2 separate regions of the Homo sapiens genome follow, and region 2 is linked to region 1. A link means that fine-mapping ties the variant in region 1 to the expression of a gene that starts in the linked region. Tissue or cell type: cerebellar hemisphere. Region 1 holds a variant in brackets; the other region holds the start of a gene. All regions are shown on one strand. Distances are from middle to middle.

The links. PIP is the estimated chance that this variant, and not a neighbour inherited with it, causes the effect.
Region 2: LINC01252 starts here. The variant in region 1 is fine-mapped to the expression of LINC01252 in cerebellar hemisphere (GTEx, PIP 0.96).

The regions. Positions count from the first base shown.
Region 1 is chr12:12,289,040-12,297,144 of GRCh38, forward strand. It overlaps the pseudogene RNU6-318P. Among named protein-coding and RNA genes, the nearest start is that of LRP6, 26 kb to the left of the region's middle. The variant C/T (reference allele first, on the strand shown) is at 3,296.
Region 2 is chr12:11,543,987-11,552,091 of GRCh38, forward strand. It overlaps LINC01252 (long intergenic non-protein coding RNA 1252), which reads left to right and starts at 4,044. Exons shown (of 8, transcript NR_033890.1): 1 at 4,044-4,374; 2 at 5,604-5,735. The region is part of intron 2 of LOC124902877 (a long non-coding RNA gene); the gene reads right to left. It also overlaps the pseudogene RNU7-60P. RefSeq lists an enhancer at 520-579.

The DNA of each region.
Region 1 (8,105 bases):
GTCAGGAGTTTGAGACCAGCCTGACCAACATGGTGAAACCCCTTCTGTACTAAAATTAGCCAGGCATGGTGGCATGTGCCTGTAATCCCAGCTAAGGCTGAAGCAGGAGAATTGTTTGAACCCAGGAGGTGGAGGTTGCAGTGAGCCGAGATCACGCCACTGCACTCCAGCCTGAGCAACAGAAAAAAAAAAAAAGGAATGCTTCACGAATTTGTGTGTCATCCTTAAGCAGGGGGCATGCTAATCTTGTATCATTCCAATTTTTGTATATGTGCTGCCGAAGCCATCACCAAAGCATTTGTTTCTTTGACTGTATTGTGAACTGAATGTTTGTGCCCCCCAACAATTATATGTTAAAATACTAACACTGAAGGTGAGGGTAGTAGGAGGTGGCATCTTTATAACGTGATTAGGTCATAAGGGGGAGCCCTTACAAATGGTATCAGTAGATACCATTTGTGGATATCTACTGTGGGTGCAGTGGCTGATGCCTATAACCCCAGCACTTTGGGAGGCCAAGGCAGACGGATCATGAGGTCAAAAGATCGAGACCATCCTGGCCAACATGGTGAAACCTCGTCTCTACTAAAAATATGAAAATTAGCTGGGTGTAGTGGCTCACACCTGTAGTCCCAGCTACTCGAGAGGCTGAGGCAGGAGAATCGCTTGAATCCGGGAGGCAGACGTTACAGTGAGCCGAGATTGTGCCACTGCACTCCAGCCTGGTGACAGAACGAGACTGTCTAAAAAAAAAAAAAATCAAAAACAAACAACAACAACAACAAAAAAAAACAAATGGTATTAGTTTCCTTATAAGAAGAGACACGAGAGAGGTGATATTTTTTTCTCTCCCATATGAGGATACAATGAGAAGATAGCCATCTACAAACTAGAAAGAGTGCCCTCACAAGACACCAGATCTGTCAGCCACCTAATCTTGGACTTCCCAGTCTCTAGAACTGTGAGAAATACATGCTTGCTGTTTAAAATGTTTATTCTTTAAGCCACTTGCTCTATGGTATTCTGTGATAGCATTCTGAATGAAAACAGGCTGTCTCTTCCAGAATATGTTATGCTTCTTTGTAAGGCATCTTTTCATCCCAGTCTGTTGTAGAATTCCTGGCATGTAGTAGGCAAGTAATAAAGCTATGCAAGCAGATCAAATGGTGCTAGGACTCTGTAAGAATTTTTCTCAGTTCCCTTCCACAGATCTCTTGCCAGAGAGAAAAGGTTCCCCTCAGGGCAGCAAGGTAGAAGACTCAAGAAGTGAGCAGAGTTGAGATCATAGAAGGCTTGGCTTTCCATGCTTAGGGGTGCAGGCTTTCATGTGTTTGCAATGGAGAGTCATTAACAGGACAAAAAAAAAATCGGTGGCCCTTTGTCTATGAACTCAATAAGAGCCTGGGCAAGAAAAAAAGAAATGTAGGTAACCAGCCCAGCAAGAATAGCAACAAAGAGGCAACACTCAAGCCTCCTAGTATGTCTAGAGTTCTGTACACCCTCCTCAGGGCTAGAAGGGCCTCAGTGTCTGAGTCTACCTGAGCCCACAGGTGGAAGAACAAAACAGGAAACATTTCCTGACCCAAGAAAATAGTTTAAATTGCAAAGGCACACATTACAGTTAGGTACAATATAAACAATTCCCTGGCACATTTATTGTCAAACTTTAGTGTACGTCAGAATCACCTGTAGGGCTTGTTAACACAGAGATTGCTGAGTCCCATCCTCAGAGATCTGATTCAGTAGGTTTGAGATGTGGCCTGGGAATCTGCATGTCTAACAAGTTCCTAGGTGGTGCTGCTGGTCTGGAGACAATGCTTCTAGGACCACCACTCCAGAACCCACTCCACCTCTCTCTCATCAACGGATAACTTGCCTGTCCTTGATTCAAGGCTTGCCTCTTTCCTTGCTAACAACATCCCTCAATCTCCTTTCAGGGACTCATTCTCCTTTGGACATTTTCAGATCTGTGCTATGGGTGGGGAGGACAAAATAACACCTTCCCTCATCAGAGCTACCTTAACCCTCACTCTACTTCTGGCTTTTTCTTACAACTTCAAAAATTGTTTGTGGCCGGGCGTGGTGGCTCACGCCTGTAATCCCAGCACTCTAGGAGGCCGAGGCAGGTGGATCACCTGGGGTCAGGAGTTCGAGACCAGCCTGGCCAACGTGGCAAAACCCCGTCTCTACTAAAAATACAAAAATCAGGCGGGCGTGGTGGTGCGCGCCTGTAATCCCAGCTACTCTGGAGGCTGAGACAGGAGAATCGCTTGAACCCAGGAGGCAGATGTTGCAGTGAGCCGAGATCGCACCACTGCACTCCAGCCTGGGTGACAGAGCAAGACTCTGTCTCAAAAAAAATACAAAAATAAAAATTGTTTTTATTGACTACTTTCATTTTCTCACCATTCATTCTCTCTTTAACCTCTTGTAATCTTTCTTTTATCCTGTCTAGCACTCTGTTATTCATAAAGAGTATTTATAAGCTGGGCGCGGTGGCTTATGCCTGTAATCCCAGCACTTTGGGAAGCCGAGGCAGGTGGATCATTTGAGGTCAAGAGTTCGAGCCAGCCTGGCCAACATGGCGAAACCTCGTCTCTATTGAAAATACAAAAATTAGTTGGGTGTGGTGGCACGCGCCTGTAATCCCAGCTACTCGTGAGGCTGAGGCAGGAGGATGGCTAGAACCTGGGAGGCTGAGGTTGCAGTGAGTGGAGATAGTGCCACTGCACTCCAACCTGGGCGATAGAATGAGACCCTGTCTTAAAAAAAAGAAGCACAAGAAGAGATTGCCCTTCTTGCCTTTGAGTACAGTTTTCCTGAAGATGTGAATGGTTGAAGCTGTGACAGCCATTTTGTTAGAATGAAGGCTTACATCTGAGCACAAAACGCAACACATTGAGGATGCCAAAGCAGAACGTTGAGAAGCATCTGGGTTATCAACATCATTTTGCAACTAATTAACCAATTCCAGAATTACCTGTCTTCAGACTTCTTGCTATGTGTAATGATAATCCCCTATTTTTTTCTTTGAGCTGGTGCTTTTCTTTTTTCTTTTTCTTTTTCTTTTTTTTTTCTTTTTGAGACGGAGTCTCGCTCTGTCGCCCAGGCTGGAGTGCAGTGGCGCGATCTCGGCTCACTGCAAGCTCCGCCTCCCGGGTTCACGCCATTCTCCTGCCTCAGCCTCCCAAGTAGCTGGGACTACAGGCGCCCACCACCGCGCCCGGCTAATTTTGTTTTTGTATTTTTAGTAGAGATGGGGTTTCACCGTGTTAGCCAGGATGGTCTGGATCTC[C/T]TGACCTCGTAATCTGCCCGCCTCGGCCTCCCAAAGTGCTGGGATTACAGGCGTGAGCCACTTTGCCCGGCCGCTTTTCTTTTCTTTTCTTTTCTTTTTTTTTTTTTTTTGAGACAGAGTCTCACTCTGTCGCCTCTGGCTGGAGTGCAGTCGTGCGATCTCAGCTCACTGCAACCTCTGTGCCTCCTGGATTCAAGCGATTCTCCTGTCTCAGCCTCCTGAATAGCTGGGATTACAGGAGCCCGCGACCACACCCAGCTAATTTTTGTATTTTTTTTAGTAGAGACGGGTTTTCACCAAGTTGGCCAGGCTGGTCTCAAACTCCCGACCTCAGGTGATCCACCCGCCTCGGCCCCCCAAAGTGTTGGGATTAAAGGAGTGAGCCACCGCTCCAGGCTCACCCCTTTAGAATCTACTTGCTACTCTGAGTACCTTCTTACAAATGCAATTGCGGTGCTTCTCACAGATTCATTTAAAAAAAAAAAAAAAAGAGGCCGGGCGCGGTGGCTCACGCCTGTAATCCCAGCACTTTGGGAGGCCGAGGCGGGCGGATCACGAGGTCAGGAGATCGAGACCATCCTGGCTAACACGGTGAAACCCCGTCTCTACTAAAAGCACAAAAAATTAGCCGGGCGTGGTGGCAGGCGCCTGTAGTCCCAGCTACTCGGGAGGCTGAGCCAGGAGAGTGACGTGAACCCAGGAGGCGGAGCTTGCAGTGAGCCAAGATTGCGCCACTGCACTCCAAAGACTTAAAGTCCAATGTTAAAAAAGGGAGAAAATTACCCAGGATATTTTGTATCCTGAGTATACGTTATATAGAGATTGGTGGTGGTGGTGATTTTTGTTGCATTTGGGAGTTGCTATGAAAGTTGAGGGACTAATTTTTTTTTTCTTTTTGCTTAGGCAAACTCCTGAAAACTACTTCTCTTCCTATTTTCATGCAGAGAAACTTAATTTCTCCTTGCCTTTTCTCCCCCTGTGGAGTTAAAAATAGTATGGATGCATTTATTTTGTGTCAATTTCCATTAGGATGCCTGCAGATACTAACAGATTCTTCAAAGTCCAAAAAGCAACCTCAGATTTTCACATTGGGGTAAGTGGAAAATAGAAGGCCCTTGATTCCTATTAACTAACCTGATTGGGTATCACCATTGTTTTCATTGCTAATAATTGTTTTCCAATGAGAATATGAATATTTTTATTTTAATGGAAGTTTTATACCTACAGTAAATTCATAGGCATTAGTTCATTCACTACTAAAATGTATACTTCTCTGAACTCAGACACACAGGCCATTTAACAGGATACATGTGACATAATAAATTAAAGTGACATGAAAATGAAAGTTTCATCTATTTAGAACTGCAGAGAAGATTTCAGGTTGTCAGATTATATGTTATTACTAAGTCTTGGTTATTGAGGTTAGTGCAGTAAATTGATTGAGTGCTTCATTTAAAATACTAATTGAGCACCTGTCTGTAAACAGCAGTTAGGCAATATGGGTGAATACTAAAAAGGTAACTTTGGTAATATTGGGAATACTAAAAATATATACAGAGAGAACGAGCACGAAAGTTTCATTAAAGAAAAGTGTAATGGAAGACATTTGACATATACATAAGAAAAACTCATTAATAATGAAAAGCAACCATACAAGAAATTTAGAGAAGCAGAGTGCCGAGGGAGTGGGGGCGGTGGGAGGCGGTAAGTGCTAAGCATCGGTCCCCTCAGCAGTTTGAATGATTTTATGAAGCAGGTAAGATTCCTTCATAGGAAGCTGAGAGAGGGTGAGGGTAAGTGGAGGGGCTTGGATGATCACAGTATGAAAAAATGGGAAAAATGGAAGGAAGACTATTCTATTCAAGAAGACCTAACAGCAAAGCCATGCTCATGGACCAGTGACTAGGCCAATCTGACCAGAGCAGAGATTTCAGATGGGAAAAAGCGTGAAAATCATATTTTAGTAGCGTTGGAAAATATCTAAGATTTCATCAGCAAGTTTCCTGGAAGAGATTGAGACTGGAAGGTTAGTTTGATTTATCAGTGTCTAGTAAAGTTGAAAACACACATACGATATGTTCTAGTCAATGCTTGGCAGGAAACAGAATGAGCTCTCACCCTGGGTAATTGAGGACAATTCAATAAAAGAACTATTTACCAAAATGTGGGCAGGGTTAATGGCAACCTTAAAAAGCAACAAGGGTAGCAATAGCAGGGGAGCCTGGGGGACTTCATTGCTGCCCCCAGGCCTGAAGAGGCAAAGAGAGGGAATGGTGATCAGAACTGCAGAACACAGGGAGAATAGCAGGGGCAGTAGGAGAGCTCCTTGACAGGAGGCCTTTGGTGGAGGAATGCAGCCAACCCACAGAGGCCCAGCAGGACGGGAGCCAGGAGAATAAATGCCCAGATCACACTCTCCTCCCACCCTCTGCTTTCCTGCTGGCATCTTCCAGAGGCCAAATCCAACAAGAAGTCAGAGGGAAAGGAAATTCATGGCTAGCAGTTCATAAAGGTCAGCTTCCTGGGGCCAATGCAGGGAGGAAGAAAGAGAAGATCAGAGGAGCAAATGGAAAACATCCAGTATACCACGTGACCCACAATTCTGTTACAGGACCACAACACTACCCCAAAGGTAGCCATTGGGTCAGGGTTTCTGCACTATAGTCCCATCTGGGTTGCCAGAAATATGTTACAAGGAAGGGGTCCCGATCTAGACCCCAAGAGAGGGTTCTTGGATCTCGCGCAACAAAGAATTCAGGGCGAGTTCGCAGTGCAAAGTGAAAGCAAGTTTATCAAGAAAGTAAAGAAATAAAAGAATGGCTACTCCATAGAGCAGCCCAGAGGGCTGCTGGTTGCCTGCTTTTATGGTTATTTTTGAGGTTATGCTAAACAAGGGGTGGATTATTCATGCCTCCCGTTTTTAGACTACATTAGGGTCACTTCCTGACGCTGCCATGGCATTTGTAAACTGTCATGGCGCTGGTGGGACTGTAGCAGTGAGGACGAGCAGAGGTCACTCTCGTTGCCATTTTGGTTTTGGTGGGTTTTGGCTGGCTCTTTTACCGCAAGCTGTGTTTGTTTGTTTGTTTGTTTTGAGACGGAGTTTCGCTCTTGTTGCCCAGGCTGGAGTGCAATGGAGCGATCTCGGCTCACCGCAACCTCCGCCTTCCGGGTTCAAGCGATTCTCCTGCCTCAGCCTCCGGAGTAGCTGGGATTACAGGCATGCGCCACCACTCCTGGCTAATTTTGTATTTTTAGTAGAAACGGGGTTTCTCCATGTTGGTCGGGCTGGTCTCCAACTCCCGACCTCAGGTGAGGTCTCCCAAAGTGCTCGGCCTTCCAAAGTGCTCGGCCTTCCAAAGTGCTCGGATTACAGGAGTGAGCCACCGCGCCCGGCCTTACTGCAAACTGTTTTATCAGCAAGGTCTTTATGACCTGTATTTTGTGCTGACTTCCTATCTCATCCTGTAACTTAGAATGCCTTAACCTTCTGGGAATGCATTCCAGTAAGTTTCAGCTCATTTTACCCAGCTTCTATTTAAGATGGAGTTGCTCTGGTTCACACGCCTCTGACAATTCTACTCTAAATTTCACACCGTATAGAAACTTCCACGTGTGCAAAAGGACAAGCACAAATATTGTCTTGCAGCATCGTTTTTAGTAGCTCTAAATTGGGGAAAAACTGAATGTTCATCAATACGGGGCTACGTAAATTGAGGTGTATTCATTGATAGAATGTAGTGCAGCCATTAAAATGAATGAACTGGATATATATAAGCATTTGTGTGTGTTTGTGCACGCGTGCACATGCATGTTTTAGAGGGATACATGTAGTATGACATACTGAATAAAAATATTTAAAACACACAGAAAAAGCAATTGTATATTGTTTCTACCTACATGTTATGTAATAGAAGTATAAAAACATGAGTAAGGCCGGGCACGGTGGCTCACACCTGTAATCCCAGCACTTTGGAAGGCCGAGGTGGGTGGATCACAAGGTCAAGAGATGGAGACCATCCTGGCCAACATGGTGAAACCCTGTCTCTACTGAAAATACAAAAATTAGCTGGGCATGGTGGCACGTGCCTGTAGTCCCAGCTACTCGGGAGGCTGAGGCAGGAGAATCACTTGAACCCGGCAGGCGGAGGTTGCAGTGAGCTGAGATTGTGCCACTGCACTCCAGCCTGGCAACAGAGCCAGACTCTGTCTCAAAAAAAAAAAAAAAAAAAAAGAGTAAAAGAATATATGAAGTCGCCTGTAATCCCAGCACTTTGGGAGGCCGAGTCAGGCAGATGACTTGAGGTCAGGAGTTCGAGACCAGCCTGGCCAACATGGCGAAACCCTGTCTCTACTAAAAATACAAAAAAATTAGCTGGGCATGGTGGTGTGTTCCTGTAACCCCAGCTACTCAGGAGGCTGAGGCAAGAGAATCGCTGGAACCCAGGAGGTGGAAGTTGCAGTGAGCTGAGATTGCACCACTGCACTCCAGTGTGGGCAACAGAGCGAGACTCTGTCTCAGAAAAAAAAAAGAATACATGAAATCAGAGAAACTCAAATTGTGATAGTAGTTTCTTCTGGTGAAGGAAGAAAAGAGAATGATATCAGGGAAGATGAAAAAAGAGACTGTATTAGTAAGGCTTCTCCAGAGAGAAAGAATCAACAGGATCAATGGATGCATAGGTAGATAGATAGATAGATAGATAGATAGATAGATAGATAGATAGATAGACAGACAGACAGACAGACAGACAGACAGATGAGAGGGGATTTATTAGAGGAATTAGCTCAAGTGATATGGAGGCTGAAA
Region 2 (8,105 bases), 750 kb before region 1:
GAGAGGAGACACAGGGATTATTCAGGAGCAGGTTCCTGTAGGGTAGCAGGAGCTGCACAGCAGGAGTGTGGAGGGGCACAGGTCAGCACCAGGATGCACCAAGGGCACCTGGGAAGTGCTGAGGGCCAGGCCACACTTAACTCGGGTCTGTGCCCTGCAGTGGGAAGAAGCCTCAGAGTATTTTCATCCTGCGAATCTCCTCTGTGCAAGAAAAGACCAGTTGATGTCCTTGAAAACTTTCCTATTTGACCAGTTCATTCTTATTTCAAAATTTTATATTATTATATTTTTTAGAGACAGGGTCTCGCTATGTTGCCCAGGCTGGACTCGAACTCCTGAGCTCAGTGAGACTCCCACCTCAGCCTCCTGAGTTGCTACCATGCCCAGCTTGCCCAGTTCATTTTTAATGAGGCCAAACACATTGGTCATGCAGCTCACAAACAAAAGGGAATGTCTGTAGTTCTGGTCAGTCACAAACTCATTGTACTTTACAGAGAAAACTCCATGCAGAATGTTGAAATATCATCCTCTAAAGGTTGACTCTAAGTATACAGAAGCAGTGTAGGGGCACAGACAGCTCAGTTGAGCACTCAGCACATCAAACAAGAAAGCATGTGGTGGTTTCCCTCTACCCAGAGCAGGGTCTGATACGGAGGAGCAAGCCTGGACTTTGTCCTTGGGCAAATTGCCCCATTAGGGGAGGAAGGAGCCCACTCTCCAGACTTTCTGGTTTGAAGCAGTACCTGGGTCTGAGCAGAGTGAGGAACACTTCCTGCTACAGCCAAACTAGACTAGCCTGGGCCCTGAGATCCATGACCTCACATGTGCCTTTTTCTCCAGGCACACTGGAAAGCTTAGTCCCCCCGCCCCCGTGACTGTCTGTTCCCGAGATAGTCCCTTTGCATGGAGAATCCGTGCCCATCCCACCCACCCCCACACCATAAAAAGTCAATGTTAGAAGGTTTGAATGGATTTAGTGATCATGCACTCCAACCCTGCCTATCTGTTCATCAAAGTCCACTTCAAATACCACTTTATAAAGACATTGTGGTTCTTCTGTCTCCCAATTCATTATTACTTTGGTGCTCTGTTATGGTATACATCACATTCAGTCTTGTATTAGAGTTGTTTGTGTACATATTTTCTGCCCTCACTCCAAGGCCAGCTTAAAACTTATAAATCTTAAAATATTTTGGCCTCCTAAAAATTAAACAGTATCATTCATAGTTTCCACTATTAAATATTTTATGCTTTTGGAATAAAATATGTCATTCTTCACCCCCTCTCCCAAAAACCCCAAAACTTTGTTCCTCTGCTTTTCTAGTTTCCCGTGTGCTGCTTAGTGGGTTTTCCAGCAGCCCTGGTCCCAAGCACATGAGGGACTGTTAGCATTTTCAAGACAAAAGTATCCTTAACTCCTCTTCATGAGCCTGCGAAGATTAAACACGGAGCTCAGAACACAGTATGAACACAATAGATGTATGATGAAATGAATAGGGCTAGCATTAACTAATGAGAGCTCCTCAATGATGAGCAAGAAGAAGGTGAAATCATGCCATCCAAGGCTTCCCAGTGCCCCTGGAGACCACACAGCCCCTTTACACAGGAAATGACGTGATTCCTGATAAGCAAGCAGTACACACTGCACAGCTTCCTTCCCTTCCTCCCCCTGCCACTCAGCACCTTTGGCAAATAGCGGCCTGCCTTCAGCCTTCATTAGGAAAGCCTTCATTAGGCCTGCCTTCTTCTCTTCATTCATGAGAGAGTGGCATTAACAGTGCACAAACTAATGCTTCTTCAAATTTTTCTGGGGTCTGCTGCTGCTACTGCTAAAATCCGCTTGCCTTCGGACACAGTTTCTCAAATGGCTTAAAAGCTTCTCTGCTTTTGATCCCTGCAGCATCACTTTCTACTCCCTCAATCAGAAACCAGAAGCTACCCACCCCCATTTCCTGTGTTCATGATAGTAGAAAGCAACAGAGAACAGTTGGCCCCTGAGCTGCCAGGTTGTGGGCTGGGTAGGGAGGATCCATTGCAGGAGCATTGGAAAGCCTTGAGCACTCTGCCCTGCCTGTCCACACAGCAGCACCTTCACAGCCTTCTAGTAGTTCTGATCAGATTTCTGCCTCTTAAAGCGGCCCCACAGACTAAAAGCCATCATCTGGAATTTGGAGTAAAAGGGCCCACAGGAAATGAAGCACTCTAAGAAAATTCAGCTGGGCAGGTATTTTAAGGTCACTGACTGACTCCAAAGTGAAGGTAGAACCCATATTGACCGCAATTCATCACACTTCTGTAACTTCAGAACTCACTGCTGACTGGTGGAGAAGGTTGCAATTGCATTCAGTCCGAATCTCTGAACATATTATTTAGAAATATTAGCTTATCCAGCTGCCTACGGAGCTTCCCATCTGGGCTTTCAGTTGCTACATTCTCTAAAGCCGTATCTGACCCACACCTTACTAACACTATGTGCTTCTACAGCATTCACCCAGTGTTACAGCTCTTTTAGAATCTGTCTAGCAGGTTTTCCAGTCTTCACTGGAAAGCCCTTGCCCCCAAATATAAAAAAATAATAAGGCATTCACCCCTGAACTTTAGCAGGGCTTCCAATCGCCTTTAAGCACTCATTTAAAAGAAAAGTCTTTTATTCCCTTATAATAGTATTAAATCATTAGCAAATGATTCTCAAAACTATTTTTTGAGTGCTCTCTTCTGTGTGAGAATGTAGGAAATGATGACCAAGTATACGAAGTTGGACATGCCTAGTCCCAGGTGGCCTTTTCCTATTGGCACAGCTGCTGGCATTCACCCGTGCAAGCTTCTAGCTTGCTTGTCTATGTCTGCAGCTTGATTTTACAGGCTGCTCATTGTAAGAAAAGAAAACGATTTGAGGGCTGCTTTTCATTAAAAGGAAAACCTTACTGAGGACTTCCTTACCCTCACTATCTGCCTAAATAATTTCTTCTTAACTCCTATATCACTTATAAGAGGAGAAAGCAGACACACAGGGGGAACTCAGTGTGACAGCACAGGCGGAGCCTGGAGGGATGCCCAGGAATGCCAAAGAGACGCACAGACTGGTTTCTCTCTCACAGCCCCCAGAAAAACCTAACCCTGCCAGTGAGAGGTGACAGCGTGCTGGCAGTCCTCACAGCCCTGCTCGCTCTCGGCGCCTCCTCTGCCTGGGCTCCCACTTTGGCGGCACTTGAGGAGCCCTTTAGCCCACCGCTGCACTGTGGGAGCCCCTTGCTGGGCTGGCCAAGGCCGGAGCCGGCTCCCTCAGCTTGCAGGGAGGTGTGGAGGGAGAGGCGCGGGCGGGAACAGGGGCTGCGCGCGGTGCTTCCGGGCCAGCGCGAGTTCCGGGTGGGCGTGGGCTCGGCGGACCCAGCACTCGGAGCGGCAGGCCGGCCCCACCAGCCCGAGCAGTGAAGGGCTTATCACCTGGGCCAGCAGCTGCTGTGCTCAATTTCTCGCCAGGCTTTAGCTGCCTTCCCGCGGGGCAGGGCTCGGGACCTGCAGCCCGCCATGCCTGAGCCTCCCCCACCTCCGTGGGCTCCTGTGCAGCCGGAGTCTCCCCGACAAGCGCCACCCCCTGCTCCGCGGAGCCCAGTCCCATCGACCACCCAAGGGCTGAGGAGTGCAGGCACACGGCACCGCACTGGCAGGCAGCTCCACCTGCAGCCCCGGTGGGGGATCCACTGGGTGAAGCCAGCTGGGCTCCTGAGTCTGGTGGGGACGTGGAGAACCTTTATGTGTAGCTCAGGGATTGTAAATACACCAATGGGCACTCTGTATCTAGCTCAAGGTTTGTAAACACACCAATCAGCACCCTGTGTCTAGCTCAGGGTTTGTGAATGCACCAATGGACACTCTGTATCTTGCTACTCTGGTGGGGACTTGGAGAACCTTTGTGTGGACACTCGGTATCTAGCTAGTTTGGTGGGGACGTGGAGAACCTTTGTGTCTAGCTCAGGGATTGTAAACGCACCAATCAGCGCCCTGTCAAAACAGACCATTGGCTCTACCAATCAGCAGGATGTGGGTTGGGCCAGATAAGAGAATATAAGCAGGCTGCCCGAGCCAGCAGTGGCAACGCGCTCGGGTCCCCTTCCACACTGTGGAGGCTTTGTCCTTTCGCTCTTTGCAATAACTCTTGCTACTGCTCACTCTTTGGGTTCACACTGCCTTTATGAGCTGTAACACTCACCGCGAAGGTCTGCAGCTTCACTCCTGAAGCCAGCGAGACCACGAACCCACCAGAAGGAAGAAACTCCAAACACATCTGAACATCAGAAGGAACAAACTCCGGACACGCCGCCTTTAAGAACTGTAACACTCACGCGAGGGTCCGCGGCTTCATTCTTGAAGTCGGTGAGACCAAGAACCCACCGATTCCGGACACACCAGCACCCGGATCTCAGACCTCTGGCCTCCGGAACTGTGAGAGAGTAACTTTCTGCTGTTTTAAGATACCCAGCTTGTGGTCATTTATTACAGCAGCCCTAGCAAACGAACCCAGTGTGGTTTGCAACTTCAGTTATAGCATCTACCATCAGCCCAATTCAAAAGACCATTTATTTAATCAGCAACGTTTCCCCCGTCACTCCTTATGGGGCAGTATCCACTGTAGGCTACTGATTCTACTTAGTGCTTTAAGTCAGCGTTGCCAGAATCATACTGAAACACATACCTGGGGCTTCTAGGGCATCTCCTAGTCAGCCTTGTCAAAATCAACAGTTTTGAAAATACGCTCTATGGCAGTCCTGAATTCCACAGGGGTGGAATTCAGAGCCGCTCTCCTCTTGTTTGTCGTATTTTATAAAATGGATATTTAATTCTGTTTCACTATTTGCTTTCATTACTAAAATTTCCCAAAATACATGAAAATAGAGGGTACTCGAAAAACCCAACTTTAAATAAAATAACCGTGAGTATTCTGCCATACTTGTTTCTGTGTTAATATAAGAATTTATTTGAAGAGTTCTGCTATAATGTTTTTAAATACTGGTTTCAATAACTCTCTTCCAATACAGATTACACTTTGTTAGCTCCAATAATTGCTGCATGGTGAATTTAGTCTATTGAAAAGGAAGTGTCAGGTCTGAGTGCCAATTATTGTACTTGACCCAAGGTAACTCTCTTTCAAGGTACTGCGTTGGGTTCCCACTGAATTATTTTACCACATTCGAAATCCTTCATCAGAAATTCAATGTCTTTTATTATGATACATGAAATGATCTAATAAATCTCACTGCACACTGTTACTTTGATTTCTCCAATGAACCACACCTCTCAGAATGCACGCCCTTGTATAGTCCCCTCTCATGGTGACAGCAGGCTTAGCCTTGTGACTAGCTTTGACAATGGGGATATTAGCAAGCATGATGCAAGTGGATTCTGATAAGCTTGATGCTGTATTTATTTGCTTTGGCTGCCATAATAAATGATCACAAACTGGGTATCTTAAAACAGCTCCTTTTTCAGATGTTTCTCCACATTCTTCCAAGGCAAAAAGAAAAGAAAAAGAAATACACACAGACACATACATATATGTTTCAGTTCAATAAGTTTTTGTTGTGTTTTGTTTTGTTTTGTTTCAGACAGAGTCTTGCTCTGTCGCCCAGGCTGGAGTGATGAGGCGCGATCATCACTCCACCTGGGCTCACTGCACCTCCGCCTCCCGGGTTCAAGCGATTCTCCTGCTTCAGCCTCCTGAGCAGCTGGGATTACAGGTGAGTGCCACCATGCCCAGCTAATTTTTGTATTTTTCTTAGTAGAGACAGGGTTTCACCATTGTTCGTCAGGCTGGTCTCGAACTCCTGACCTCATGATCCACCCACCTCGGCCTCCCAAAGTGCTGGGATTACAGGCGTGAGCCACCGCGCCCAGCCTCAATAAGTATTTATTAAGTGTATAACACATGGCAGAAACTGTGCTAGATACTGAAACTATAATGGCAAAAATCAATTCCTGTCCTCTGAATTGGTTACCTAGTAGAGAAGACAGACATGTAAACAAATATAGTGGAGAGTGACATAGGCAATAATAAAACTATGTATAAGAAATCCAATTAGTATGGATAATTAACAACTAATGGTTGGAAAGAAGTGTCAAAAAAAGCTTCTTAGATACAGTGACACCTGAGCAGGATTTCTAAGGGTGCACTGGGGAAAGAGGTTCATAAATCAAGGGAGCATCATACTGAAATGGTAGTGATGGAACATGGTATATGCAGACAACTACAAAAATTCACTTCTACTGATAGTCCAAGGGAGGAAGGCATGAATATGAGAATGGAGGTATGGACAGAGGCCAGGTCAGGGTAAGTTAGAGAGCTTACTTAACCTTGTAGAAAATGACGAGCCATTGGAGACTTTAAAGAGAAATAACATAGTCATATTCTTGTTGTGAAAGATCATCTGGGCTGCTATGTGCAGGACAGATTACCAGGAACAAAACCAGAAGCACCTGTTCAAGCCTGAATTCTAGTCACAGAAGTAAAGCTGAAGAGGAGAAAATGGATGTGAGCAATATCCAAAAGGGAAAATAATAATATACACATAAGGAATAGGGAAGAGAAGAGCAAAAATAATTTCCTATTTCGCCTTCCCTTCTTTTGGAGTTGGAACACTCAAATGGTGTGATGGGTGGCACTGGGGCTAAGGGGACAAGGCTGGCCCAGCTGGGAGATTGCTTACATGCAGGAGGATCAAGTGAATGAGTCAACGTATCAAGGAGACTGGGAATGCAATTTCTCACTGTTGAAGAAAGGAGTTACAAATATGCAAAGGGGAAAATGTGATACTGGATTGGAATTGAAGGCATTAGTCCGAAGTTATGGATTTTAAAGATAGGAATGTGACAGATGATAGATAGGTAGGGATAGACAGGTAAATTGAGAAGTAGAAATGTATGAATGTGTTATATTTCCTAGTCCAGGAGCAATGACACCCCAGTTGCAATGAGCATCCTAGCATTTAGATCTCAGTTTCTAAATACCTTTTTCCACTAAAAGGAACCAGGGCTGGGGCAGGGAAAGAACAAGATGACCCTGGAACTCTATTGTACTGAAAGTAAGGAAGCCCTCAGATAATTATGAGGACATGTCTAAAGGACACAGGAGTGGCTCACGCCTGTAATCCCAGCACTTTGGGAGGCCAAGGCGGGTGGATCACAAGGTCAGGAGATCCAGACCATCCTGGGTAACACGGTGAAGTCCCATCTCTACTGACAATACAAAAAAATTAGCCAGGTGTGGTGGCGGGCGCCTGTAGTCCCAGCTACTCGGGAGGCTGAGACAGGACAATAGCGTGAACCCAGGAGGTGGAGCTTGCAGTGAGCCGAGATCACACCATTGTGCTCCAGCCTGGGCAATAGAGTGAGACTTCCTCTCAAAATAAATAAATAAATAAATAAACACAGGAGCCAACTTCATGGGGCTCCAGTTGTCCACATCTAGGTCATTTTGTGGATCAAAATAAAAAATGATAGTAACTGATTATAATTCATTGAAAAATCAAATCTCATGAATCCATACTTATATAATACATGAATGAATAAATATGAGAGAGAAGAGAGAGCTCTAACTTATAGTAAATGCCAACTAATCAATGTAAATATAATTATGGAATTAGAAAATTGTTATTATTTTGAGACAGGGTCTTGCTCTGTCACCCAGGTTGGAGTGCAGTGGTGCAGTCACAGTTCACTGCAGCCTCAACCTGCTGGGCTCAAGCAATTCTCCCACCTCAGCCTCCCAAGTAGCTGGGACTTCAGGCGTGTGCCACCACACGGCTATTTTTGTATTTTTTGTAGAAATGAGGTTTCATCATGTTGCCCAGGCTGGTCTCAACTCCTGGGCTCAAACAATCCACCTCAGCCTCCCAAAGTGCTGGGATAATAGGCATGAGCCACCACACCCAGCCAGAAAATTATTATTTTGCAACCATTATAGTTATAACTAATTTAGATAGAATCATCATTGGATGGAAAAGCTAGTAGGTGAAAATTTGATGAGGAAATGGATACAATCTCAAAGTATCTCCCCCAAAATATTTAGTGCTTATTAGTAGTTTAGAAATACAAATTACTTACTAGTTAGC